Homo sapiens: one gene and its partners. The protein of the gene in region 3 purifies or fractionates together with the protein of the main gene of each other region. This does not show direct contact. Each region holds a gene or a part of one and is shown on either strand. Other genes may lie near its edges.

What was found.
Region 1: the proteins of FEZ1 (region 3) and ASPM purify together in Homo sapiens (co-immunoprecipitation; 3 studies listed by BioGRID and IntAct, with this or other methods). This does not show direct contact.
Region 2: the proteins of FEZ1 (region 3) and DGKD purify together in Homo sapiens (co-immunoprecipitation; 3 studies listed by BioGRID and IntAct, with this or other methods). This does not show direct contact.
Region 4: the proteins of FEZ1 (region 3) and ATP12A purify together in Homo sapiens (affinity purification with mass spectrometry; 2 studies listed by BioGRID and IntAct, with this or other methods). This does not show direct contact.

What each region holds. Positions count from the first base shown.
Region 1 is NC_000001.11:197,101,665-197,108,687, reverse strand, and holds part of ASPM (abnormal spindle-like microcephaly-associated protein), read left to right. Parts: intron 1-3,502; coding exon 3,503-7,023. UniProt on the Homo sapiens protein: Involved in mitotic spindle regulation and coordination of mitotic processes.
Region 2 is NC_000002.12:233,349,820-233,357,495, reverse strand, and holds the start of DGKD (diacylglycerol kinase delta), read right to left. Parts: upstream 3,003-7,676; 5' UTR 2,978-3,002; coding exon 2,822-2,977; intron 2,367-2,821; exon of another isoform or gene 1,873-2,366; coding exon of another isoform or gene 1,837-1,872; intron 396-1,836; exon of another isoform or gene 209-395; coding exon of another isoform or gene 173-208; intron 1-172.
Region 3 is NC_000011.10:125,458,264-125,465,286, reverse strand, and holds part of FEZ1 (fasciculation and elongation protein zeta-1), read left to right. Parts: intron 1-1,716; coding exon 1,717-1,803; intron 1,804-4,620; coding exon 4,621-4,789; intron 4,790-7,023. UniProt on the Homo sapiens protein: May be involved in axonal outgrowth as component of the network of molecules that regulate cellular morphology and axon guidance machinery.
Region 4 is NC_000013.11:24,675,997-24,683,421, forward strand, and holds the start of ATP12A (potassium-transporting ATPase alpha chain 2), read left to right. Parts: upstream 1-4,411; 5' UTR 4,412-4,747; coding exon 4,748-4,756; intron 4,757-5,565; coding exon 5,566-5,724; intron 5,725-7,425. UniProt on the Homo sapiens protein: The catalytic subunit of a H(+)/K(+) ATPase and/or Na(+)/K(+) ATPase pump which transports K(+) ions in exchange for Na(+) and/or H(+) ions across the apical membrane of epithelial cells.

The DNA of each region.
Region 1 (7,023 bases), on a different chromosome or scaffold from region 3:
GATTCTGTTTTTTAAATTTGTATAGGACTATTTATCTTTGATGAGTTTTGGCAGTTTCTAATTTTCGAAGAATTGGTCCATTTCATCCAAGTTGTTGAATTTACCATATGTATATACAAAGTATATCTTTAATATCCTTTTGATGCCTGGGTAGTCTGTAGTGATATTCCCTTTTTCATTCCTGATATTGATAATTTGTATCTTCTCTTTTCTTCTTTGTCAGTCTTGCTAGAGTTTTAACTCTCTTGATCTTTTCAGTGGACAACCCTTTGGCTTCATTGGTCTCTGCTCAGTCTTTATTATTTCTTGTTTTGATTAATTTTGCTTTTCTGTCTATAGTTTCTTTAAGTATAATCTTGAGTAACTGATTTGAGTCCTTCCACTTTTAATGTAACACATTAATGGTATAAATTTTCTTCTAAATACAGGTTTAGCCACATACTACAAATTTTGATATGGTATTTTTTTTTCATTCAGTTCAAATAGTTTTTAATTTCTCTTGAGGCTTTTTCTATGATTTAAAGTTTCAGAATATGTTATTTACTTTCTAAATGTTTGGAGATTTTCCTATTATTTTTCTGTTAGTGACTTTTTCTTCAATTCCATTATGACCAGAGCACATACTGTGATTTCAATTCTTTCCTATTTGATAACCTTTAGTTTATGATCCACAATATGGTCTATCATGGTCAGAGGTTGGTATATCTGCAGGCCAAATTTGGCCTACCATGTGTTTTTATAAATAGAGTTTTTTAGAATATGGTCACAACTATTTGTTTATGTATTATTTGGGAGCTGCTTTTGTACTACAATAGCATAATTGACTTGTTGCAACAGAATTGGCCCACAAAGCTGAGATATTTGCCATCTTGGCTGTCATCTCCATTCTGCTATTGTGCCATACCAGTGAATTTTTATTTTGGTTAGTGTGTTTTTCGGTTCTACTATTCTCACTTGGTTCTTACTCATATCTTTGATGTCTTTACTGAGACTTTTTATCTTTCCATTAGTTTCAACTTGTTGTAGCATTTTTACTTTATCTGCTCTAAAGTCGTTGTCAGTTAATTCCAATTCCAGTATCTTTGTCATCTCATCATTGGTGTCTATTGATTATCTTTTCTTGTGAGAGTTGAAATTTTTCTGTTATGTTGTATGTCAAATAATTTTTAATTGCATTCTGGAAATTTAATGTTATGTTATCAGACTCTATGTTTTGTTTAAATCCTATGGAGAATGTTGATATTTTAGTTTTAGCAGCTAATTCACTTGATTGGGTTCAGGCCACCTGTTCTCATCAGCCTTCCATGAGCGTAGCTTCAGTGACAGTTCCTTTTTGAAAGCCTTTACAGTGAGTGATATTTGTATCATATCAGTTTCATTATGTAACACCCAGTAGCCAGTCTGGGATCTAGATTGTGATCTGTATCTTATTCAATTCTTAAAGTCTATAGCCTACTGTGGTCTAGATTCACATTGTGCACAACTTGGTGGTGAACCTAGAAATTCATAAACAACATTATCAGATTGCTTCCCTGAGCTCCCCAGTCTCTACCATCTCCCTGGTACCCTCTAGTTCCTCAGGGCTGCCTTGTTTCATCATCTGACCAGAAAACTGAAGATTGAGTTACACTGCTCTACTGCATTCTTTCCATGACTGCGCCCATATCTCAAGCAGAGAAACTCTTTTGTATGAGGAAAAACAAAGTATGGCACAGGTTATAGTTACTGGGAGAGATGAAGAATTGGGCTGTTAATGCACTCAACCTGCTGCAGATATCTGTGGTAGAGTAGAAAGAACATTTGATTTTGGTGTAATAATGTAGATCCTAAGATCAATTATTTTTATTTGCTGTGGGACTTTGCAAAAAGTTTTGTAACATTAGTGTTCCTTTCTTTAAGTGAAGAAACAATGCCAACTTAATGTATTTTTGTGAGAATTAAGTGAGAAAATTGTATGTAATGTGTTCCTTAGTAAAAGCTATTTATTTTTAAGAATTGTATGACAATGGTGAAAAAATTGCTATTGTAATAAGCAAAACTGTTAGGAGAGGAGATGATCATATCTTCCATGTTATATATCAACATTGATTAACATTTCAGTAATGGAGTAGTAATAGTAATGTAGAAAAAGTGATTATTAAAGTATAAAACAATCTGTACACACTGATTCTTCAATTTCTTAGTTTGAGGATTTTACATAGAAATATCTGTTGGGGGTGGGTGCTCAAAAGAAAAATAATATCTGAATTTCTGAGTACTATTACTGCTTTACTTTGCCCTAATTTAAAGCAAGTTAATACTTTATGTAGAGTTTATTGTTTTCAAAATACTTTTGTACAAATAAGTTTGACTGTTGTTGGATAAATATTTTGACAACTTGTGCATCTCTTCTTGGTAAGATAAAATGTATACAATCATTTCCTGTCAGGTTGAAGAGTATGAACAAAACCTCAGGTAACATTTAGTAGAGGAAGAAGACAATAAAACTTACAGGAAAAGGGTCAGGAAAAGGGATGTGCATGTTCTCCTTAAGCTTCCTCACCCATGGATAGGTATGCTTAGGCCAGTGATAGCTGCAAGCAAACTCGATACTGCTATAGGAGAGCGAGGTACCCAGTCCCTATATTACTCTACTTATATGCGAGAAAAAGTAAGATGTAGTAGAGAACAACCTCTCCATGCCACCCCCAATCTCAGCAATGTTTGGAGTGTTTGTACAAAGGAATGGTCTTATTGCTAAAACATCTAGAACTTGACTACCATTAGCCTGGGACCATTTTAGATACCAGCAACTGGAATTAGCTTGAGAGTTTGTAGCTCTTTTTGTTGAGCCAACATACAGTTGGATTAGCCATTGTAACCATGGCTTTTCAAAAGACAAAAGTTTTGTCATTTCTCAAGTCTTTCTAGAATTCTACTTTTAAGCCATGTATTTATAGTTCCTAAATTTGGGAAAAGGAAGTAATTTTATTCTTAATGAAAATAATGACTCTGAGAGTGATCTGGTTTATTTATTCCTAAATTCCTATATTTATATTATCAGGCCTGTAATGTGATAATGCAGGATCCTTCACATAAACAGTTTCTAGTCATTATAAGGTAGCTTAGAAACATTGAAGTAAGGGGACCATATAAGGCCCAGAAATAAACTCATAGGAAATTACTTAGAATCAATAGATAGCAAAGAATATTACTATAGTTTTATTTTGACTCTTTTGCTTGTAATATAACATAAACTTGCTTATGTTTCTTATGATTCTGGCATACAAATGCAGTATTTAAATATAATGAAGATTTGGATGGATTTCTGAATTGGCTACAGGTATATCAATGTAAAACCTAAACTAAAAACAAAAGAGACAAATATCTCACAAAAATAATTAGTTTTCTAATTCAATGTGTTTATTTTTAAGCAGAATGTTAGAAAAATTAGTATTTTGAAAAGTGTTAAATATAGAAAGCTATGCCTATTTTACTTTGTGTCCTTTCTTACCTTTTCCAGGGATATTGGAGAAGATATTCCACTAGACAAAGATTTCTGAAATTGAAATATTATTCAATCATCCTGCAATCTAGGATAAGAATGATAATTGCTGTTACATCTTATAAACGATATCTTTGGGCTACAGTTACAATTCAGAGGCATTGGCGTGCTTATTTAAGAAGAAAACAAGATCAACAAAGATATGAAATGCTAAAATCATCAACTCTTATAATCCAATCTATGTTCAGAAAATGGAAGCAACGTAAAATGCAATCACAAGTAAAAGCTACAGTAATATTGCAAAGAGCTTTTAGAGAATGGCATTTAAGAAAACAAGCTAAAGAAGAAAATTCTGCTATTATCATACAATCATGGTATAGAATGCATAAAGAATTACGGAAATATATTTATATTAGATCTTGTGTTGTTATCATTCAGAAAAGATTTCGGTGCTTTCAAGCCCAAAAGTTATATAAAAGAAGAAAAGAGTCCATACTAACCATCCAGAAGTACTACAAAGCATATCTGAAAGGAAAGATTGAGCGCACCAACTATTTGCAGAAACGAGCTGCAGCCATTCAATTACAAGCTGCTTTTAGGAGACTGAAAGCTCATAATTTATGTAGACAAATTAGAGCTGCTTGTGTTATTCAGTCATACTGGAGAATGAGACAAGACAGAGTTCGATTTTTAAACCTTAAGAAGACTATTATCAAATTTCAGGCACATGTAAGAAAACATCAACAACGACAGAAATATAAGAAGATGAAGAAAGCAGCTGTTATAATTCAGACTCATTTCCGAGCTTATATTTTTGCCATGAAAGTTCTAGCATCTTACCAGAAAACACGCTCTGCTGTCATTGTGCTGCAGTCTGCATATAGAGGGATGCAAGCCAGGAAAATGTATATTCACATCCTCACATCTGTTATAAAGATTCAATCATATTATCGTGCTTATGTTTCTAAAAAGGAATTTTTGAGCCTAAAAAATGCTACAATAAAATTGCAGTCAACTGTTAAGATGAAACAAACACGTAAACAATATTTGCATTTAAGAGCAGCTGCACTATTTATCCAGCAATGTTACCGTTCCAAAAAAATAGCTGCACAAAAGAGAGAAGAGTATATGCAGATGCGGGAATCTTGTATCAAACTGCAAGCATTTGTTAGAGGATACCTTGTCCGAAAGCAGATGAGGTTACAAAGAAAAGCTGTTATTTCACTACAGTCTTATTTCAGAATGAGAAAGGCTCGGCAGTATTATCTGAAAATGTATAAAGCAATTATTGTCATTCAGAATTACTATCATGCATACAAAGCACAGGTCAATCAGAGGAAGAACTTCTTGCAAGTCAAAAAAGCAGCTACTTGCTTGCAAGCAGCTTACAGAGGTTATAAAGTACGCCAGCTAATCAAACAACAATCTATAGCTGCTCTTAAAATTCAGTCTGCTTTTAGAGGCTATAATAAAAGGGTAAAATATCAATCTGTGCTTCAATCTATAATAAAGATTCAGAGATGGTACAGGGCGTACAAGACTCTTCATGATACAAGAACACATTTTTTGAAGACAAAGGCAGCTGTGATTTCCCTCCAGTCTGCTTATCGTGGCTGGAAGGTTCGGAAACAGATTAGAAGGGAACATCAAGCTGCCTTGAAGATTCAGTCTGCTTTTAGAATGGCCAAGGCCCAGAAACAGTTTAGATTGTTTAAAACAGCAGCATTAGTCATCCAGCAAAATTTCAGAGCATGGACTGCAGGAAGGAAGCAATGTATGGAGTATATTGAACTCCGTCATGCGGTACTGGTGCTTCAATCTATGTGGAAGGGAAAAACACTGAGAAGACAGCTTCAAAGGCAACATAAATGTGCTATCATCATACAGTCATACTATAGAATGCATGTGCAACAAAAGAAGTGGAAAATCATGAAAAAAGCTGCTCTTCTGATTCAAAAGTATTATAGGGCTTACAGTATTGGAAGAGAACAGAATCATTTATATTTGAAAACAAAAGCAGCTGTAGTAACTTTACAGTCAGCTTATCGTGGTATGAAAGTGAGAAAAAGAATAAAGGATTGCAACAAAGCAGCAGTCACTATACAGTCTAAATACAGAGCTTACAAAACCAAAAAGAAATATGCAACCTATAGAGCTTCAGCTATTATAATTCAGAGATGGTATCGAGGTATTAAAATTACAAACCATCAGCATAAGGAGTATCTTAATTTGAAGAAGACAGCAATTAAAATCCAATCTGTTTATAGAGGTATTAGAGTTAGAAGACATATTCAACACATGCACAGGGCAGCCACTTTTATTAAAGCCATGTTTAAAATGCATCAGTCAAGAATAAGTTACCATACAATGAGAAAAGCAGCTATTGTTATTCAAGTAAGATGTAGAGCATATTATCAAGGTAAAATGCAGCGTGAAAAGTACCTGACAATTTTGAAAGCTGTTAAAGTCCTTCAGGCAAGTTTTAGAGGAGTAAGAGTTAGACGGACTCTTAGAAAGATGCAGACTGCAGCAACACTCATTCAGTCAAACTACAGAAGATACAGACAGCAAACATACTTTAATAAGTTAAAGAAAATAACAAAAACAGTACAGCAAAGATACTGGGCAATGAAAGAAAGAAACATACAATTTCAAAGGTATAACAAACTGAGGCATTCTGTAATATACATTCAGGCTATTTTTAGGGGAAAGAAAGCTAGAAGACATTTAAAAATGATGCATATAGCCGCAACTCTCATTCAGAGGAGATTTAGAACTCTAATGATGAGAAGAAGATTCCTCTCTCTCAAGAAAACTGCTATTTTGATTCAGAGAAAATATCGGGCACATCTTTGTACAAAGCATCACTTACAGTTCCTTCAGGTACAAAATGCAGTTATTAAAATCCAGTCATCATACAGAAGATGGATGATAAGGAAAAGGATGCGAGAGATGCACAGGGCTGCTACTTTCATCCAGTCTACTTTCAGAATGCACAGATTACATATGAGATATCAGGCTTTGAAACAGGCCTCCGTTGTGATCCAACAGCAATACCAAGCAAATAGAGCTGCAAAACTGCAGAGGCAGCATTATCTCAGACAAAGACACTCTGCTGTGATCCTTCAGGCTGCATTCAGGGGTATGAAAACTAGAAGACATTTGAAGAGTATGCATTCCTCTGCAACCCTTATTCAGAGTAGGTTTAGATCATTACTGGTGAGGAGAAGATTCATTTCCCTCAAAAAAGCTACTATTTTTGTTCAGAGGAAATATCGAGCCACCATTTGTGCCAAACATAAATTGTACCAATTCTTGCACTTAAGAAAGGCAGCCATTACAATACAGTCATCTTACAGAAGACTGATGGTAAAGAAGAAGTTACAAGAAATGCAAAGGGCTGCAGTTCTCATTCAGGCTACTTTCAGGATGTACAGAACATATATTACATTTCAGACTTGGAAACATGCTTCAATTCTAATTCAGCAACATTATCGAACATATAGAGCTGCAAAATTACAAAGAGAAAATTATATCAG
Region 2 (7,676 bases), on a different chromosome or scaffold from region 3:
CCACCCTAGACCTACTCAACCATAATCATCATTTTAACAGGATCCCTAGGAGATGTGTCTGCACATTAAAATTTGAGGAGCACTGCCCTAAGACATTCTCTTTTGTTTTTCTCTTCATTAAGACAGCTCTGACTTGCACTAGACTAATATTTTAAAAGCCTGACATACATACAGTTCTGGTCCTGGGCCAGCTTGTCCTCAGATCCATTCTTTGTCCTTCTGCTCCAGTCCAAGTTGTGGAGGAGGTGACCCCAGCAAGGCCAGGGTTCCCAGGCAGGAGGGGAACAGTACATCCGCAGCAGCAGCTGTGCCCTTGCAAGGCTCCAGCCACTGCCAGATGGACCCCTTGTGACCCCAGTTTTTGGTGGGTGACAGCTGTCCCTGGAGTCTGAAATGCCATCTCCTTCCTTCACCCTCCAACTTAGGGGTGGCAGCAGTTTCCTGCTTGTTGCCTCATCTCCGGCTTGCCTCATTGCAGCCTGCATTCTCAGTTCTCACATCACCTGTGTGACCACTCCCCTAGATTACATTCCTTCTGTTCCAAATACTTAAGGTGAGTTCTGTTTTTCTTTTTAGACTCAGACTGCTACCCCATACCATTTTTGATGTTTCTATTATGTACCATAGATACCAGAGGAATTTTGTGAATGGCTTATCTGCTGGAAAAAAAAAAAATGGAGCTATTACATACAGTCAACCTCGCATTCCCACATTCTGACAATCTCTTAACAACTCAGAAGAAAAATCAGCCTTAAGCTATCTGTACAGCAGATGTGACTGTATTCAGAAACTCTAAGTCCTCGGGGTGTATTTTTAACAGTCTACCCATCACTCCTCCTCAACCAGAACAGCTGGTATAGCAGCTATTGTTTTAGGAGAAAAAAGAAGGAAAGCAAAAACACCTCCTAACCAACAAAATTCTAAACACTGGAATCTCCCAGGAATCAAATCTCTCTCAACACAATCTTGATCTTAATCAACCTTGTAAATCACATGATCTACCCCACACTGGTCAGTACCTTGCCTGGGCAACAGGAGAAAGCAACTCCTATCAGTATCATTTAGGGCTATGTGGAGATCTTCCCAAAAGCACATCTGATCCATCACCCCCATACTTTGAACAATCCTCTGTGGCCACCTCTTGCCCAAGGCCAAAAAGCAAACCCCTCAAAGGACCACCCCTTCGAAATTCAGCCCTAACCAACCCTTCCAACTAATAAGTCTAATCAACGTGATCCACCTCTGGCCCAACTTCTGATCATTTCGCAGTTGTGCCTAAAGCTCTAGACGCAAGGTTCAAATATGTAGAAGGCCATTTCTTACCCACTTAGCCTGGTGAATTCTTTATCCCTCAAGATCTCACCTTAAAGGAAACCACTCCTGCCTCCCCAGGGCAGGTCTCTGCCCCGAGTTTCCGCGGCACTTACAATGTTGTCATGTCAGGTGCACAGGCGTCCATCTCCCAACTAGACTGAGAATCCCTAGGTGTAGAAACTGCCTTCCATCTTACGGTCCTGACCATGGTTCCAACACACATCCACATTTACGACCTGTGACACCCTGGGCAAGTCATTTAACCTTGATTCTATTTCTATTCCAATTCCAAAAGACGGAGATGATAGCATCCAACTTATTGGGTTCTCACCAGTACTAATAAACTAACCATGTCAAGTGCTGTAAAGCTAACCCAAGAAAGTGCCTGGCACATAGAAGGCTTATTAAAGAATTGTTATTTGCTATTGCTATCATTATCATCACTACTGCTACTGTTATACCCGGAACAAAGCAGGTGTTCGGTACCTATTTGCTGAATAACTGGAGCACTTCACAACAAACCTGTTTGTAACATGTTAGGACCTCAGGTTCCCCCATCGCAGGTATCAAAGGCTGACAGAAGAGAAGGCTCCCACGGTGAAGGGAACGGCTGAACCTAATCCGCCCCGGAGGAAAAGCGCACTGCAGCAGGAGGAGAAAGTCCGTGCCAACCGGATCTGCCAGAGCTGCCCCAGGGACCCAGCCTGCTCGCAGCCACCTGTCCAGCCACCTGCCTGAGGAAGCAGTGTTCTAACCGGGCGGGCTCACCTGGAGCAAAAACCGTAAGCTGTTTTCAATAGGAAGCACAATGGGAAAACAAACGGTGCAACTTTCCTCCTGCAAAAAGGACGTGCGTCTTTATCTAACATTTAGCGTCAGGAGTTCTCCGTGGAGAGTTGGGTGCCAAGCGGGTGCGCGGTCCCGGCTTTGCTGAGAGAGACGGTCACTGAACGCGCATCCCTTCCTTCCCTTTTGGGATGAAGGGGTGAAGGGGTGATCCCTCGCACCCGGGTCCGAGCGGACTTCTGAGGGCACCACAGGGAAGTCTGCAGGGCACTCGCGGGACACCACCCGACCGCTCCTGAGAAACGTGCAGAACCGGGGTTTGGGGACCGCGGACGCCCGCGGGGCGCAGCCGGGAGCCCCCGCGTGGGACCCGCTCGGTGGCACGAGCGCAGTCCCCTGCATCTAGGCCTCAGTTTCCTCCGGGTCCTCGCGGCCCAACTCGGCGCGCGCCCCCCGCCCAGCGCGCGGCGCCCGGGGCGCCCACCTGCGCGCCCCCCGCCCGGCCCCACAGCCGCCCGCCGTCCGTCGGGGGCCGCGCGCTCCGCCCGGGGCGCCGGCCCGTTACAGCGGCGGGGCACGCTCGACAGGGGCGGTGACGCCCGCGGGACCCCGGGCCGGGCCGAGCCGGGCCTGGGCGGCCGCTCGGGCAGGGCCACGGGCCTCGGCCGGGGCTGCCGCGGCGTGAGGGGCGCGCGCCCGGGCCGCCGCGCCGCGGGCTCACCTTCTGTCGGATCTGACCCGACGTGGACACCTTGCGGATGAGCTTCTGTGGGGAGCCGGGCTCCGCCTCGGGCTCGCTGTCGGACGACTCCTCGGGCGGCGGCGGCGGAGGCGGTTGCGGGGGACCCGGCGGAGGGGCGCCCGCCGCCGCCGCCATGCTGCCGGGCCAGCGCGCGCACCGCGGGCGGGGGCGGGGCGGGGCCGGCGGGAGGGGCGGGGCCGAGGGCGGGCCGGGCCGGGGGCGGTGGGGGCGGCCTCCCGCCTCTCCCCGCCGCGCCCCCTGCCGGCCATGCGCGCAGCTGCAGACGGCGCCGCGCGGCCCCTCCCCGCCCCCACCTGAAGCGTCCCGGGCCCCCCGCCCACCTCTCCGGGCCGTGGCTTCTGTGTGTTATTTCTGGAACGCCGTTTGTGTTCTTGTTTCTATATTCACTTCTTAAAACATCTCTACTCTTCCGCATCAGAATGTAGGTAACCTCAGGCAGGCTGGGGCTGTGTCTGTCCTGCCCAGCCTTGTGTGGCCGAGTTTGGGGCGAGCTCGAATGCGCGCGCGCGTGCTGGAAAGAGACCCCGGTACTGGGACGGGCCTCGGGACGCCAGAGCTGGGATGCACCGCTCCATCTGGGAAGGCTTCCTGGAGAAAACGGTTCTTAAGGAGAGATGGAAAATGTGAGCAGGAGTTGTGACTAGAGAGGGAACCATGTTCTAGGCAGAGACCAGATTTGTGCAAAGGCCTGGAGGCAAGAAAGAACGAGTGTTGGGCGAAGACGGGGGAAGAAAGGGAAGCTGGTGCTTAGAGCAAGGAAAATGGCATTAAGATATGAGCCTCGGGGCGGGCAGGTCGAAGCGGGCTTTGGAAACCAGATAAGGGGATGGAAGGCAGCAGGAAGCCCTTGAGGGATTTAACCCTGGGCGGGGCTGGGTCACCACGCTGGGGCCTGTGATCCGGGCTTTGAAGTTATCAGGGCAGGTGGACGCCCTGGATTACCGAGGGGCTGAGAGATAGAGACGTGGACTGAGATCCAGGTGGGGAGTGACCAGCGACTGGAGGGAGACAGAGGTGACCAGAACGAGTCCCATGTTTCCCAGGGGGGCTGCTGGATGGTGGGCGGGTGGGGTCCAGCGCTGCTCTGGGCAGAAGAGGAGGAAGCGAAGCTGGAGATGAGATCAGCTAAGTTTTTGGTGCCATCCAGGTGGAGCAGGGCTTGGTGCCACCCAGAGGAAATGCTGTCCATCTGTCTGCCCTGCTCTGAGGGGCAAATCAGTAAGGGACTGCCCAGGTGTGCCCTCTCCCTGTCAAAGGGCTGCCGCTAGAGACCTCGCCTGCCAATAGGCATTCGCTGGCCGCGCCGCCCTGGGCAGTGACCTGGGGCTGCAGAGTGGCATCTGGCATGGGGACACGGCCAGGGGCATGGGCTCACGGCCAGGACAGAGGAGGACAAGGCCTAAGGCAGGAACAGTCCGGGACAGGCCGAAGGCCCCATGGTGCCCCAGGGTACTATAGCCACTAGCCACATGTGGCTACTTAAATTTCAATTAGTTAGAATTCAGCATTCCGTTCCTCAGCCACAGGAGCCACATTTCAGGGACTCAGTAGCCGCATGTGGCTTAGCAGCTGCCACGCTGGATAGCACAAATATAAAACACTTCCCCCGTCCCCCCAGAAAGTTCTGCAGCACAGTCGCATGCTGAACTGTGTCCTCCCGTAATTCATATGTTGAAGTCCTAACCCCCAGTACCTCAGCATGTGACTGCATTTGGAGTTAAGGTTTTTAAAAAGGTAATGAAGTTAAAATGAGGTCACAGGGGTGATCCCTAATCCGGTATGACTGGCGTCCTCATAAAAAGAGGAGATGAGGACACAGACACACACAGAGGGCAGCCCATGTGAAGACACAGGGAGAAGATGGCATCTACAAGCCAAGGAGAAAGGCCTCCGATGGAACTCCCCCTGCCGACACCGTGATCTCGCACTTCCAGCCACCAGAACCGAGAGCGTCAATTCCTGTGGTGGAAGCCGCCCGGCCTATGGTGCAGTGCTCTGGCAGCCCTAGGGAACTCATGCAGGCACAAAGGGCTCCAGCCTCCCCACAGGGTTGGGACTTTTCTATCAATTAACTACATGTGGAGTGATACACAGAGGCAAAACCCTGGAGGAGTGTGCAAGGCGGAGGAGGGGCGGGGACGCACAGGGGAAGAAACAGTTCATTCCTTCATTCCGCGGGGGAGCCGGGTGACCTGAGCAGGGTTTGGGATTGGAATGGAGAGGTCAGATATGAAGGGAGTTTCCCAGGAAAACGCAAAAACGGGGAGACTACCCCTACCAGGTGAGCAGAGCGGGTGACGAGGGATTTTGGTGAAGCCGGTAGCAAGGCGGGTGCGGGAGGCAGGGAGGTGAGCAGCGGCGCCAGGATGCAGAGTAGCCTCCCGGCCCTGCTCTGAGGCAAGGACTTCAGTCCCGTGGGCACTGGAGCTGGCAAGGGGGTTTGGGAAAGCAGAGGAACTCATGTGTCTGGGCAGAGAATGATCCATAGGAGAGAAGACTAGAAATAGGGAGGCCATTAAAATGCTGTTGCCGGCCGGGCGCGGTGGCTCACGCCTGTAATCCCAGCACTTTGGGAGGCTGAGGCAGGCGGATCACGAGGTCAGGAGATCGAGACCATCCTGGCTAACACGGTGAAACCACGTCTCTACTAAAAATACAAAAAATTAGCCTGGCGTGGTGGCGGGCGCTTGTAGTTCCAGCTACTCGGGAGGCTGAGGCAGGAGAATCACTTGAACCCCGGAGACAGAGGTTGCAGTGAGCCGAGATTGTGTCACTGCACTCCAGCCTGGGCAACAGAGCGAGACTCCGTCTCAAAAATAATAATAATAATAATAATAATAATAAATGCTGTTGCCTACACCTGTTAGGAGCTCAGGGGACATCCAGGCCCCAGAACTCATCATTTTAGAGTCAAGGAGGCAAGGGCATGAACGTGACGGTTAAGAAGCAGAAACCGTGGCTGGAGAGGAGGAAATCTGCAATTACCAGAAAGTACTGAGATTGTCACAGACAAGAGGAGCCAAGGAGACATGATGACTAAACGTCACGTGGGTTCCTAGATGGGATCCCAGAACAGAAAAAGGACATTAGGTAAAAGCTGAGGACATCAGAATTAAGTATGGGGCTTTAGTTTAATAATAATGCATCAATATTGATTCCCGGGTAGGAGGAGGGTGAGGATTGAAGAACTACCTATCGGGGATTATTGTGCTGATTACTTGGGTGACAAAAGTATCTATCTGTACACCAAACCGCCATGACATGCAATTTACCCATGTAAAAAACCTGCACATGTACCCCCTGGACCTAAAATAAAAGTTGGAAAGAAATAAGTATATTTTACTGGAAACAACATTTGAGTCACTCAGTGTGGCAAATGTACCCTACTCATGTAAGGGTTAATAATAGGGGGTTTTGGGTGTGGGGGACCTCAGTATAACATCTTTGCAACTTTTCTGTAGATCTAAAACTACTCAAAATAAAAAGTGTATTTTAAAAAAAGAGGATTAGGCTTGGTAAGAATTATATTCTTAAAGCAAAGAAAACTGGCATAAATGTTCTTTGATGATGAAGCAGCTTTTTTGTTCTCCTGGTGAGCGCACAGCGCTGTTCCCCTGGAGATCTCAGGAAGGGCTGAGACATCAACTCCCCCAAAGCGGTGGCCTGGAAGAGCACATTCCCTCCGGTGCCTCTTTATTGAATGAGTCACACTATGAATCATCTCTAACGACAGCCTGCTCCCTGAGTCTACCCCACCTTGAGGGCATATCAAGATGGCAGTAATAACACACTTCACGTCCAACCTAATTCTTCTTTGTGACACGTCAGTGAAGAGGCGCAACTCCTGTCAGAAAGAACCACTTCACATTGGAGAATATAAAAGGGAAACTTGAAAACATGGGAATCATCCAATTTTTACCCTGAACTAGGGTCATGATTGTCATTTGGAGCAGCACATTTCTCCACTGCATGTGACATAGAGCTTCTGGTCCCCAAGCATGTGAAAACCAAAAACCACCATACACATTTCCAAATGTCCCCAACTCCCACCCCGCACCTGCCCTACTCCTCAAAGATCAGTAAATGCGACTCAGTCCTGTGAAATGAAACTGGAAGGAAGAAAGGTTTTTTAAATGTTAAAGGAGTAGGAAAACAGACACCCTAAAAAGGAATTAACCACACATGTGACAAAATTGCAGAGAACTGAATACACACACTAGTACAAATCCAGTTGTGGAGATCTCAGTCAGATGAGCAGACTGGACCCACGTCGATACCCCGCTGGGATATTGTACTGTAGCTTTACATGATGTTGCCACTGGAGGAAGTTGGGTAAAGCGTTCCTGGGGTCTCTCCGTATTACCCCTTACAACTGCATGTGAATGTGCAAGTCTCTCAATGAAAATTTCTTTTTTTTTTTCTTTTTGAGATGGAGTCTCGCTCTGTTGCCCAGGCTGGAATGCAATGGCACAGTCTGGGCTCACTACAACCTCCACCTCTTGGGTTCCAGCGATTCTCCTGCCTCAGCCTCCTGAGTAGCTGCGATTACAGGCACCTGTCACTATGCCCAGCTAATTTTTTGTATTTTTAGTAGAAACGGGGTTTCTCCATGTTGGCCAGGCTGGTCTTGAACTCCTGACCTCATGATCCGCCCGCCTCGGCCTCCCAAAGTCCTGGGATTACAGGCATGAGCCACCTCGCCCAGCCTGAAAATTTCAATGGAAAAAAAAAATAGCAAGGGCCAAGGGCAGTTGTTGTTGAATCCTAAATGCTAATCTCCCTCCCCCCACTCCACCAAACTCTCCTACTTCCA
Region 3 (7,023 bases):
ACTACAATCAGCCACATTTCAGAAAAGGTAAACATGCCATTTTTATATAGACTTAGTGCCCACCACCCCCTACCCCCTGCCAAATCCTGGTTATAGACTAACAGTTGCTGTTAGATGCTTATGAAAAATAACCCTGTTTCCCAGGATGAGCCTAACTTGGGCTCACACTAACTTGGGCTGGGTTCATATTGATACATTTCTTCCTTTTTCTCCCCTAATTTTTGTCTGGAGGAAAAAATGTATCTTCGTTCTCTTAATTTTGGGCTAACTTCTACTGCAGGATTTTCTGGCCTGAAGAAAGTTCTTCCATATGAGTGTAGTTGTGAACAAAGCGTAGCTCCAGGAGTTTTGTTCTGCATAGTGGGGAGCGGTGGAAACCACGAGGCTATCGCAGGTGGTGGACTTGGCAGAGAGAGGAGCATATGGGTTTGACAGCGGAAATAGATGTCACCATCTGGTACCCGGGCCCTTCAGATGATTCCATTACCTCCCTGTCCTACCCCATATCTAGGTTGAGTGCGGATGGCATTTGAGATATATTTGCTTAATTTTTTTTTTCTTTTTTAATGACATAGTCCTGGTTTTAAGCAAATGGAGATAAAAGGTGATGTGCTCTGTTAGGGATGTCTGCCAAGGCAAAGCTCACAGAAGACGGGAGAAGTTTCTGAGGATAGACTACCTCTGACATTATTGCTTGGATTGGAGCTGGGCTGTTTCCTGTTAGAAAAGGCAGAATACAAGCCCCAGGGAAGGGGCCAATCGGTGTGCCAGCTACTGGAGCGCAAGGAGGATTCATTCCTGGATGAGAGGTGACTCAGCAGAGAGATTTCCTAGAGACACCTCCTGCCTCCTCCTTGTATGACGTTCAAATCAGACTTCTAGACATACAGCTTGTTAGGTGTTTAGTGATTAACTTTTCTGTGGGACTTGAATGTAAATGCCAGACTATGGCAGTTTGGGATATGGTCAGTTAAGCCAGATATGCTTTGAATAGCTTGTTAGATTTAAACATCTAGAATTTTGATGGCTGTGAACTTTGAGGATCTTACTTGGGATTATGGAATTATAGAGACACAGGGCAAATGAGATAAATGGGGTTCTCTTTTGTAGTTTTGTTGTTGTTTAGTTCATGTGGTCAGGTTATTCAGTGGCATGTCCCATGCAGATTTCTTACATCTGCCATCAGCTATGACATCATGCCTGGATTCCAGTAACAGGATGGCATTTCATCAAATTCTGAAAGTCATCATTATTTGGACTAGAACAACCTATTCCTTAAAATGCCTAGTAAGACGAAATCTGGAAACAACCCCCCAGGTTGGAACTCCTTAACAAAATCAGGGCACCTTTGCTGCAGTTGGCTGCAGTGTCACTTACCTGGAGAAGGCGCCTTGTTCACCCCAGGATGACCTGTCTGTGGGTTAAAAAACGGTGCTGTCCCCTTTGAGTCAGAATGGTGCTGGCCATTCCCCTGTCGTCTTTTCCTGCCAAGTTGGATTCAGTGCTGCATGCTGGATTTCTGGCATGCTGGAGTTAGTGATGGGGCAAAGATATGTTTGGAATTGGATGAAACTCTGGACACCTCTTCAGCTCCACTGTTTAGACAGCAGCTGGCTGGAGTGGCCTCCCAGTCAGTATCATCCATTCTCGAGACTAGAGGCAATCCCACTTCTGCTGATGGTCACCCAGAATTCCATCTCCCCACCTCCTCTCCAGATCCATGAGAAAGAAGAGGAAGAGTTCAATGAGAAGAGTGAAAATGATTCCGGTATCAACGAGGAGCCTCTGCTCACAGCAGATCAGGTATAAGTATCTCTCCAGGTTATCGGGACCTTTTGTTCTTTTGATGGAGAAAAAGTCCAAGAGAACACACTTGCCACATCCATTTAAGGCAGAAGAAAGATATGTGGTCATGTGGTGCCTGTGCTCATGACTCAGAGTATTTTTTGTTTCTTTTTTTTCTTTATATATATATACTTTTGAGACAGAGTCTTGCTCTGTTGCCCAGGCTGGAGTGCAGTGGCGTGATCTTGGCTCATTGCAACCTCTGCCTCCCGGATTCAAGTGACTTTCCTGCCTCAGCCTCCCGAGTAGCTGGGACTACAGGCATGCACCACCATGCCTGGCTAATTCTTATAAAAAATTTTTTGGTAGAGATGTGATTTCACCATGTTGGCCAGGCTGGTCTCAAACTCCTAACCTCAAGTGATCTGCCCACCTCAACCTCCCAAAGTGCTGGGATTATAGGCATGAGCCACTGTGCCTGACCTTTTTTTTTTTTCATTTTGAGACAGGGTCTCACTTTGTCACCCAGGCCAGAGTGCAGTGGCAAAATCAGGGTTCACTATAGCCTCAACCTCCTTGGCTCAAGCGATCCTCCCGCCTCAGGCCCCTAAGTAGCTGGGACTACAGGCATGCATCACTATGCCCAGCTAATTTTCTGTACTTTTAGTGGAGATGAGGTTTCACCATGCTGCCCAGGCTGGTCTCAAACTCCTGGACTCAAGCAGTCCACCCGCCTTGGCCTCCCAAAGTGCTGGGATTACAGGCATGAGCCACGGTGACTGTCCAACTCAGAGTATTTTTGATAAGGGATTTCATCTCTCTTTCTGCCTCAGGTTGCCCACCTGCAGTGAACATGAATGTCATTCTTGACACTTGGGATAGTTGGGGTCAGTCTCTGATAGGAGCCAGAGACAGGCATAGTGTTTAGTAGCTACAATCCTGCTAAGCCTTCTTATTGAAATTCGTTGTACTCGGAGTCAAGACACTCAAACAAGGGTCCCAAATACCTGTTTTCCCAAAAAGAGAAGTGACAGATGAGGCTTTTGTGTGATGGATATTTTCTTACATTTCATAGAACACTCAAAATTTTGGGCCTTCCGAAAGGAGTCTTAGAGCCACTTCGACTTTGTGAAAAAAGATAGAGTGCTTCGCATTCAATTGAGATCATCATAGCTTTAATAATTTATTACTTAGAGAGGATAATGTTCAGTTTCTGGATTCCTTATTTAATGTTTTAGTCAACAAATATTTATGGGTGCTTATTTTGAGCTAAACACTACATAAGTTTCCACAAAGTCTTTCTGCAAAGCTCCACTGGCAGCCTTCGGTGCCAGAAAGTGCTTTTTTAGCAGCAATGGTGCTTTTTCATATCTGTGATAGAAAGGTGGGAATTGAAACACGTGAGGATTAGGAGACTGAAGAGAACCAGATTTTTAAAAATAGGGGCTAATAGCTATTCTTGTGACTTGTAGGAGGATCTACAATTCAATGATATGAACTCAATTATAACTCCTCTTAGAGAAAAGGACATTCAGCCATAAGACCCTGACAGGGACTTGTGTCATTTGGTTGCATTCTGTAAAATGGCTTTCAGTAGTCAAAGACTGGGTATTTCCTAAGTTTGTGAGTAGAGGTGAAAAGGTTTGGGAATAAGAATGGAAATTATTCTAAAGGAGGAGACCCTGAAACCCCTTACCTTTGGTCCAGCCCACTGTGAAGAAACCACCTCAAAGAGTACAATGCTGGCCTCGGGGACTTTAGTCCATCCATGGAGAACAGACAAAGGTGAAGGTTGGGACAAAACTCATCTAAAGACCTGCTTTCAGCAGCAGTCTTCTTTATTTGTAAATAATTAATGTACAAAGTAAGTCACTCTTTTTTTTGTTGTTGTTGTTGAAACAGGATCTGGCTCTATTGCCCAGGCTGGAGTCCAGTGGCCCAGTCTCGGTTCACTGCAACCTCTACCTCTTGGGCTCAAGCCATCCTCCCACCTCAACCTCCCAAGTAACATGGACTACAGACACACGTCACCACAACTGGCTAATTTTTCTGCTTTTTGCAGAGATGGGGTTTCGCCATGTTGCTCAGGCTGGTCTTGAACTCCTGAGCTCAAGTGATCCACCTGCCTCGGCTTCCCAAAGTGCTGGGATTACAGGCATGAGACACCATGCCCAGCTAGTAATTCACTTTTGTTCCTTTTGGCAGATATCTAATTTTCCCTCCACTTCTGGGAGCTGGCTCCTGTCAATAGTCTAGATTAGAGCTGGGGTTCTTATCTATTTGCTGCTCTCTAGACTCCACCTATCCTTCTATTATTTCATTATCTCTATTTTCATTTGTTGCTGGGCAGCTTCAGTTCCTGTCTAGGTGAATTCTGGAGAAATAGTTGTTTTCCTCCCCATTTTGTGTTGTTCTAGGAGCACGCTATTTTTTACAGTCACGTGTATTATGTCAATTAATGGACTGGGTTTTGTGTTAAAGTTGGGTGAATGAAATATTTTCCCACTTAGAAATAGCTCAGCACATTGAAGTAAATGTTCCCTTCCAGGCAGCTCTGCCTTGCTTCCTGAAAGAGCAGCTTATTTCCAATAAGTCATTTATCTAAAAGGAGCTCTTGGAAGAGGTTTTACATTAAAGAGTGCCTTACATTAAAGAAAGAGTGTATGCAAGCCTTTGGTTGGAACTATTTTTATTATTCAGTATTTATGTAAAAACAATATTGCTTTAGAAATTTTCAGATAGCTAATTAGGAACATCCTTAACTGATCAAAATTCAAGCCAGAATGCCCCTCTAGCAGAGAACAGAGTTAGCACTCTCTCGTGTACCTTCTTCAGGTAATTGAGGAGATTGAGGAAATGATGCAGAACTCCCCAGACCCTGAGGAAGAAGAGGAGGTTCTGGAAGAAGAGGATGGAGGAGAAACTTCCTCCCAGGCAGACTCGGTCCTCCTGCAGGAGATGCAGGCATTGACACAGACCTTCAACAACAACTGGTCCTATGAAGGTGAGGGCCCTGGGCGCTGGGCTGGCCGAGGAGGAAGCACCTGCTCGGGGCCAGGCTCTGGGCTGTGTGCTTTGTACATGGCTAATAGAACCCTGACTGCCTCAGAGCAGAGCCTTGCAGATCTAGGTGGTCAGCAATACCTTTCTTACTCGGCATCAGGAGAGAAGTTTGCATTTTTGAGAAAAGAACAAGGTAGTCGAGCAAAATTTAAATGTTAAAACTAACCAAAGAACAAGACTAAGGCAGAATAAGCAGAAGAAATCTGAACTACTATATAAAAGCAATGAATGATGCTACCATAAAATCAATGAATAAAAAAGGTAATAGTAACAGCTCATATTTCTGAAGTGCTTTCTATGTGCCAGACCTTATTCTAAGACTTTCTTTCTTTTTTTTTTGAGACAGAGTCTCTCTCTGTCTGTCACCCAGGCTGGAGTGTAGCGGCATGGTCTTAGCTCACTGCAACCTCCACCTCCCAGGTTGAAGTGATTCTCAAGCCTCAGCCTCCTGAGTAGTTGGGACTACAGGCACGTGCCACCACGCCCTGCTAATTTGTGTATTTTTGTAGAGACGAGGTTTCGCCATGTTGGCAAGGCTGGTCTCAAACTCCTGGCCTCAAGTGATCTGCCTGCCTCAGCCTCCCAAAGTGCTGGGATTACAAGTGTGAGCCACTGCGCCTGGCCTTATTCTAAGACTTCCTATGCCTAATCTCATTTCATCTTCACACCAACCCCATTTGGATCAAGCTAACCGAGTCTTTCAGAGGTTACATGACTTGTCCAAGGCCACTGTTAGGGAAATATGATTAGAAATGAGATTTCCTTCCTGTTCAGAAAACCTCTCCACAAAGACAGGTGAGAAAGAAAACTATTTTGTTACTATTTTTATTTATTTATTTATTTTTTAGAGATAGAATCTCGCTCTGTCGCCCAGGCTAGAGTGCAGTGGCATGATCTTGGCTCACTGCAGCCTCTGCCTCCCAGCTTCACGCGATTCTCCTGCCTCAGCCCCCTGAGTAGCCGGGATTACAGGCATGCATCACCATGCCCAGCTACTTTTTGTGTTTTTAGTAGAGATGGGGTTTCTCCACGTTGGCCAGGCTGTTCTCAAACTCCTGACCTCAGGTTATCCGCCTGCCTCGGTCTCCCAAAGTGCTGGGATTACAGGTGTGAGCCACCATGCCCGGCCTAGAAAACTATTTTATTATTGAATAAGCACTAAACCAGGATGGGAGCCACATCACAGACAACTCTCTGAAGAGACTGCAAAGACAGAAAGCAGTCTCACTCTTGTGTAGCTAAGTGGATGAATGGAACCCATTACATTGAGTAGGTTTTGCAATTTGGAGTCGGAAGGGAGTTAGGCCCCTCTGCTCAGAACAATGAGAGATGATTATGTTTCTTTTTCTTTTCTTTCTTTCCTTCTTTTTTTTGAGACAGAGTCTTGCTCTGTTGCCCAGGCTGGAGTGCAGTGGCATGATCTCTGCTCACTGCAACCTCCGCCTCCCAGGTTCAAGCAGTTCTCCTGCCTCATCCTCCCGAGTAGCTGGGATTACAGGCATGCACCACTACGCCTGGCTAATTTTTATATTCTTAGTAGAGATGAGGTTTCACATGTTGGCCAAGGTGGTCTCGAACTCTTGACCTCGTGATCCGACTGCCTCGGCCTCCCAAAGTGCTGGGATTACAGGCATGACCCACTGCGCCCGGCCCGATGATTATATTTCAAAGCAGTAACCTCCAGGCCCTTGAAGAAAGCCTCCTGAATTATAAGAATGACAAGAGGCTTATTTTAGCCATGACAATAATTTAATGTAAATGTAACATATGTTTATTTTAAAGATTTAATCTAAATCTTTGAGAGATTGAAAAGGATAGGTAGAAGAAATTCTGAAAGAAAAGGGAGGTGGGGGAGAGGAAAAGTCTCTTCCCTTATTTTCAACGGGGAGAATCAAGCCTCTCATTTAAAATTTGTATTTGTGCTTAGTCCATGCAGAAGCCATAAGGGGTGAAGCTAACATTTGAAGCCAGGTAGGTTAACTCCAGAGGCCATCCTCTTAACTCTCTGACACAGGTTTATAGTAATTATGACTGTGCACAAGAAACGGCTGGATGAAGCATGAAATGAAAAAGTGTAACACAGCAAAGGCAGAACAATTCACCAGCCGTAGGGTATCAAATGCCCACGCTGCAGAAGGGGCCCCATCCTAGGAGTTGATCCACCCATGGGGAGAT
Region 4 (7,425 bases), on a different chromosome or scaffold from region 3:
CTGCTGATTCCCATCAGTCATGGTGTTTACAGCTCCAGGCAGGATCATCACTGGAGCTGACTTGCTAATTTCTGAAAAGCCAGTATTTCTTTTCTGGAGGATGTTCATATGCCAATCTCAGGATTTCCTGTGCATGAAGAAATGAGGACACAGTGTGGAAGCGTGCTTGCCTGAAGCTTTGTTTTGTTTTTTCATCCTGGCTCCAACCCCAGGCGGCCCTCCTCTCGTCGGGAGAGGAACACTGGCCGAGTCACAGCCAGTCGTGCTGACTGGATACAGGTGCGTAGGGAGGGCTCCAGGTGGGGACTGTCCCATGTGTAGGAGAGGAATCCAGGGACAGGGAGAGGCCGAGTGGGCAGCAGAGGGACAGGCCAGTCGGACGCAAAGCAGGAAGTGGAGCTTCCTCTTCCCATTGTCATCTGGATCCTCCCGCTCCGTGTGGGGATCCTCACAGTCACACCTCTTTGAGCCAGCTGGTGGCCAGCCTGCGCACAGGAGGGACCTCCTGGGGTCCCCAAGGGAAGCCACACACACAAGGCCCCAACTCAGCTGCTCTCCCAGACTCTCTCCCCACTTTCTTGGCGGGTGCAAAGGGATGGAAAAAAATCTGAATAACTAATCCTAAGTAGTACAAGTTATGCCATTTCCCCCAGAGAAACCTCTTTCCTCTAAACTCTGAAGGCACTTAGAGCCCATACCAGTTAGTGCTAAATTATTTTCCCTTTTGGCCCGTTTACTATTGGTTCTTCACTAATTTGGTCTCTCCAACTCAAGTCCAACTTCCTAGAGGGCAGAGGATGGCATGATTTTAGTACCATATCTCCCCACCACCCCTATATCTAGTACAGCTTAAATACATGAAGTATATAATTTAATTAAAACAGGCTGAAAATACATATATCATGACATCCTATCCCAAATATATAATGTTCGTCAATATGAGCAGGTATAATAGAGAACCTTGGCGTGGATAGGCTTGTTTTGAAAAGCAGCAAAACCTCAAGCAGAAGCTGCTACTAGCACATGTGGGCTGAGGAAGTCTCCCGGCTGCAGCCTGGCCTCTATGGCCAACCCTCTAGGAGCCATTTGCACTGGGTGGGATCAGGGTACATTGCTCAGAACATTGTGGGTGATGGCCCTGGGACCGAACGTGTCTCAGGAGAAATCCAATTCCTGATTCTACAGGTAAGTGCCTCCAGATGCCTGCATCACAGTTACCCAGGGCCTACCCACCTCAAGGCAGAGTCGGGTATCCAGATGACTAGAGGCAGCAAAGGACACGATTCTGGAGTTAGGGTTGGGGAATGGCCCCATTTTCCTTCTTTGGTAGAAGTCAACACTCCAGGACACCTGAATGGCACCAGAGGCTGCCACAAGGGCCATAGCAGTGACAGCTGAGACTAGTCCCTGGCAGAAGCCAAGAACTCTGCAGGATCAGAGAGGTGCCAGAGAACCTGACCATGGAAATGTTTTTGTCCTGCTTGTAGTAATAAACCGTCTTCCACCCTTGATACCAAAAGGAATAAGCAGCAATCTTGGGCTCAATGGCTCACACCTGTAATCCCAGTATTTCTGGGGCAGAGGTGAGCGGATCGCTTGAGCCCAGGAGTTGGAGGCCCGCCTGGGCAACATGGTGAAATCCCTTCTGTACCAAAAAAAACCACAAAAATTAGCTGTGCCTGTAGTCCCAGCTACTCAGGAGGCTGAGGTGGGAGAATGGCTTGAGCCCAGGAGGCGGAAGTTGCAGTGAGCTGTAATCACACTGCACTCCATCCTGGGCAACAGAGCAAGACCGTCTTAAGAAAAAAAAAAAAGCGGCAATCTTCTCCAAGGATCAAGGGAGGGTGCCATCAGTTAGTACTTTCTAAAGCTGTGTCACCATCTCTTTTTAGCCCACTTCCCCTCCCCGCTCCCCATCCCTCAGTCAAGTCCCTAGGATCTGAGTTTGCTTTTGGAGCTTGAACTGGCCTTGAGCTCAGAGACATCTCTCTGCGGACCCTGCTTCTCTATTCTACATCTGTCCCAATAGTTGGAGCAGGGGCTGGAACAGCTTAAGGTGAGCAGCAGCCACCTGTTCCCAAAAAACCCTTAGCTTGGATTATCAGCAGACAGTGGAACATCAGTTTCGTACACATTTTGTATTTCTCACCCCATCTGCAAACCTTTCCTTTGAAGAGTATTCCAAGAATGGAACCCAGAGCTCCCCAGAAGCACACTGTTGCTTGGGTTTGGACTAGAATTTAATGTTCCCTCCAACTCTAGAGAATCCATGATGTGTATCTTTACACCAGATGCCACTAGGAGTCTTCCTGTCCCTTATCATTTTAGTTAAGAAGTGACTCATTGCTGTCATCCTTGCTTCACAGAGGGAGGAACCCAGGCTTCAGATTCTGCCCTTTTGGAACGGAAGAAGGAGGGAGAGCGGGGAAAGACCTATGTGTGCAGCACTATGGAGACAGTTCACTATGTCGGGTACAACACATTCCCTTAGTCTCATTTGAAAGCCATGATGAACAGAGAGGTGTGGAAAATCTAAGATCACAAATATGCCATGAGAAAGTATCTTTGTCTCTACTGCTACTTTACAAAACCACGTCTCTAACTGCTAACACTTCAAATTCCCTCAAAATAAGCTTCTTTTCCCAATTGTCCCTCACCACCAACTATAGTCATGCTCTGAAATTATTATGGAAATTTAGCATCTGAAAGGAACAGGAAGTTATAATTAATTCCTAATTAGAATTGGGCACAAGCTTTTTTTTCTTATTTTTTTTTTAATTTTTTTATTGTGACAGAGTCTCGCTCTGTCGCCCAGGCTGGAGTGCAGTGGCGCGATCTCCACTCACTGAAAGCTCCACCGTCTCCCGGGTTCATGCCATTCTCCTGCCTCAGCCTCCCGAGCAGCTGGGACTACAGGCGCCCACCACCATGCCCGGCTAATTGTTTTGTATTTTTAGTAGAGATGGGGTTTCACCGTGTTAGCCAGGATGGTCTCGATCTCCTGACTTCGTGATCCGCCCGCCTCGGCCTCCCAAAGCGTTGGGATTACAGGCGTGAGCCACCGCGCCCGGCCGGGCACAAGCTTATTGTTTTTCTTCTACCTTTTCTAAATGTACCCAATGCTCTTCATGTTTTCTGCCAGATGTTCTAGTCACTGCATGATGGGATTGTTACTTTTGCTGCTTCTCTGGACTCCTCACTCTTAGTCATTTTAAATATGGTCAAAATGACAATCTTTCTTACCATATTTGATATATAACTTTCAAAAAGAATAAAACTTAGCACCCTCCTATTAGTCCTTATCTAAATGGAAACTTATTAGCAGAGCATCAAGGGCCCAATAAAGTGCCCCCTCTTTTGAAACTTATCTCTACTCCCTTTCATATATTTCAATCATGTCAATTTCTTATTGTTCTTCTAAATAGGTGCTGATTACTAAACTCTATTCGTGGGTTTTATTTTTTATGTTCCTCTCCATTAATTAATATTCTTCACTGACTTTAAGACTTCACGATTCATTCTTTTAAAAGAACGTGTTTGATTTCCTCCACTGTTAACTGCTAAATATCTCTCTGATATATTGTTTTCAGGCTATCTTTCTCATCTGGAGTAATTATGTTTCAAGTGTCAGGGGGAAAATACCTTTTCTATCCTGTGCAAAAACTCATGCTGGGCACTAAGAGCATGGAGCATGTCCCAGTTATCTATTGCTGCATAACAAACCAACCCAAACTTAGCAGTATAAAACAACCACTGCTTTAGTATGCACATCAACTTTCAGGGTCAGAAATTCTTTTCTCCTTCATGTATAGAGTCTCAGCTGGGAGTGACATAAATAGGTGGAGACAGACCTCTCCAGCCCAGTCCAGCCAACAGCCTCCGCTCCTGCGCACCCGCAGCCTGGGGCCCCAGGTTCCTGTGGTCTCACCGACCCTAATCCTCTCATCTCTCCTCCCCATTCCCTCTCCAAATTGTTTCAGAATTCCAAATTCTTATCTGGATCCGGCAAATTAATTCAGCTACTCTTCAGAGTCTCTCAGTTATTCCCAAATTCTCTCGGAAGCTTGAATTTACCTATCTAAATCCATTCTCAAAAACACATTGGCCTTTTCTAGCCGGGACATCTCCAACAGTAGTTGCTGTTAGAAACTGCAATTTCCCCTTCTCTGCATACACATTTTTATAAATTGATTTATTGGTAGGCAAATTACATTTTTAAAAAAAGGCATGTGTGGGTTTTCAGGGAAGCCTGGACAGGACGTGGGCGTGCCGGGAGCTCGCCGGAGCAGCTGGTCCGGCTCTGGGCGCCCAGCGGAACCAGGGCTGTACTCACCTGGATGCCGGACCCGCCCCCTAGAGACCCCGCCCCCTGGCGTTCGGCTACTAAAGGGAAGGGGATTCCCAGGGGGTCCTCAATCCTGGACTCTCCCGACCCCTAGCTGTCGGTCCCCCTCCCTGCGCGCGCGCCGGCGGGTTTCCTACCCTCCGAGGCGTCCGCTGGCCTGCGCCCTGGCGGGGACGTGGGCGGGGCGGGCGGCATTTAAGGCTGGTGCCACCTCCCCGGTGCAGCGGCTGGCGATCGGCCGCGGAGGTGCGTGCAGGGCCCGCGCCGCCGCCGGTATCTCCACCGCCAACACCTCAGCCACTGCCACTGCCACAGCCACACGAGGCCCCCCACCGTGCGCTCCGCCGCTGCGGTCCCGGATCCGCGCTCCACGCCCGCAGCCCGCGGCGCCACCAGCCCAGCATGCACCAGGTGCGTGCAGCCCCCGCGCCGGCCGAGGATGCGAGACGCTGGGCCAAGGCCCCGGGGACCGGAGCAGGCTGACGGGAAGCGAGGAAAAGGCGAAGAGGAGAAACGCCCCGTCCCGGGGCAAGGGGAGGCCGCCTTTCCTCTGAGCGCCCCCCGGCCTGGGCACCGCTTCTCTGACTCCCCGCCACGGCTCCGTGCGGCCGCCGGGGCTGGCTGGGGAAAGAAGCCAGTCCAGAGGAGCGAGAAGGGGCCAAGGGGTCCTAGGCCAGCTCCATGGCACCTGCGGGCTCCGACTCGGAGGATGGGGTGACATGGATTCGTTGCGGTCTGAAAAGACTTCCGGTTAGGGCCCCCTGATCAGGACTGAGGGTCGTAAGCTTAGTGGGTGCCTCCTCCCCAAGAAACAGGACGCACAGCTGTTGTGTCCCCTGGGAAGGACACCTCAGAGGAAACCTCGAGGTGCCTAAGGAACCTCGAGGTTCTAAGGAAACCTCACAGCTCCTTGGAGGCATCAGTCAGGAGTTGGGGGGGTAACTTCCCACCTGCTCCACCCAGAGAAGGGTCACCCTGAGGAGCTGCTGGCTGGCCTGTGCCCACCCCGCCTCCCCTCTACACGGACGGAGAGGAAGCCAAGGTCGGCGGGAGGTGGGGGAGAGACTCCACTGTCCGACTCCCTCCGGCCTCCCCAGAGGAGGGAAGGAAAGGGAGAAGGGGCTCCTGACTCCTGCAGGTCCTGACCCCGCAGAGGGGCGCTCAGCACCTCTTCGGAAACCCCATTTGGGGCCAATATTGCACCTGGGCTTCTCTTTCAGAAAACCCCAGAAATTTACTCCGTGGAGCTCAGCGGAACTAAGGACATCGTGAAAACAGACAAGGGGGATGGCAAGGAGAAGTATAGGGGTCTGAAGAACAACTGCCTGGAACTCAAAAAGAAAAATCACAAAGAGGAGTTTCAGAAAGAACTCCATCTGGTCAGTAGCCTTAAGCCACGGGGTCCTGCCGGCTATGGCCCTTCCCCGCAAGAGCTTGCCCCTAGAACCCACCTCTTACCACAGACATTCAGTCTGAGGGATTTGAAATCCCCTTGAGATTGTGTGTGGTGTGTGGTGTCTGCGTGGTGTGTCTGTGTGGTGTGTGTGTGTGGTGTATGTGTGGTGTGTGTGTATGTGTGGTGTGTCTGTGTAGTGTGTGGTGTGTGTGTGTATGTGTGGTGTGTGGTGTATGGTGTGTGGTGTGTGTGTATGGTGTGTGGTGTGTGTATATGGTGTGTGTAGTGTGTGGTGTGTGTATGTGTGTGGTGTGTGTGTATGGTGTGTGTGTATGGTGTGTGTATGTGTGGTGTGTGTGATGTGTGTGTGATGTGTGTGTGGTGTGTGTGTGTGGTGTGTATATGTGTGTGGTGTGTGTGTGGTGTGTGTATGTGTGTGGTGTGTGTATGTGTGTGGTATATATGTGTGTGGTGTGTGTGGTGTGTGTATGTGCATGGTATGTGTGGTGTGTGTGTAGCGTGTGGTGTGTGTGTAGTGTGTGGTGTGTATGTGTGGTGTGTGTATGTGCATGGTATGTGTGGTGTGTGTGTAGCGTGTGGTGTGTGTGTAGTGTGTGGTGTATATGTGTGGTGTGTGGTGTGTGTGTGGTGTGTGGTGTGTGTATGTGTGTGTGTGTGTTTTGAATGGTGTGATAGTATCCACCCAGAGGTCAGGGCCTCTGCAGGATTCCTGCATTCTGGTTGGAGGCAGTCCCTGTAGAACTCAGAAGGAAGAGCCTCTGATTCCAGGCCCCACAGGCATGGCCAGACCTCTCTCCCCGCAGCTGCTTCAGTGAGAGTTAAGTAACCACTTGCCAGTTTTCAATTGATTAGTAAAACTATTTGAGCTGGAACTTCTGAGGAGGAAAACCAAAGCCCCTAGGCCATGCTAGATTGCAGGTGTGAAACCTCATGGAAAAGCAGTTTCAGTGGTAAAAATGTGGAGCTTGGATTGGGAGGACCTCGGGCCCCATCAGAGTCCCACTTCTCCACTGAGCTGAAACTGGCAACAAATGACTGACCCTCACTGAAGGTCCATTTCCTTTATGTAAAATGGGAAATAAATAATTTGCTGGGGTCTATGAGGGGAAAAAATGAGATGAGGATTTTGTAATTCACGTGCTTTAGGGGAGTACAATATTATTATTATTAAGGAAGAGCTCTGGAGTTATTAAAACTAGCCTTTTTTTTTTTTTTGAGACAGAGTTTCGCTCTTGTTGCCCAGGCTGGAGTGCAATGGCGCTATCTAGGCTCACTGCAACCTCCACCTCCTGGGTTCAAGCGATTCTCTTGCCTCGGCCTCCCGAGTCACTGGGATTACAGGCGCCCGCCATCACACCCAGCTAATTTTTGTTGTTTTTAGTAGAGACGGGGTTTCCCCATGTTGGCCAGGCTGCTCTCGAACTCCTGACCTCAGATGATCCACCCGCCTCAGCTTCCCAAAGTGCTGGGATTACAGGCGTGAGCCACTGTGTCCAGCCCAAACTGGCCACTTTAATAATAAAACTGCCTTGGGTCTGAAATGTGACAGATTTTATCTTGGGAACACCGAAGGGGAAACTTCTACACGGAGCTTGAGATGGGCTGGATTGTCCCCACCGTCCTTGGCAGATCTTAAAGCTCTGTGACTCCTGAGGGGAGTCTC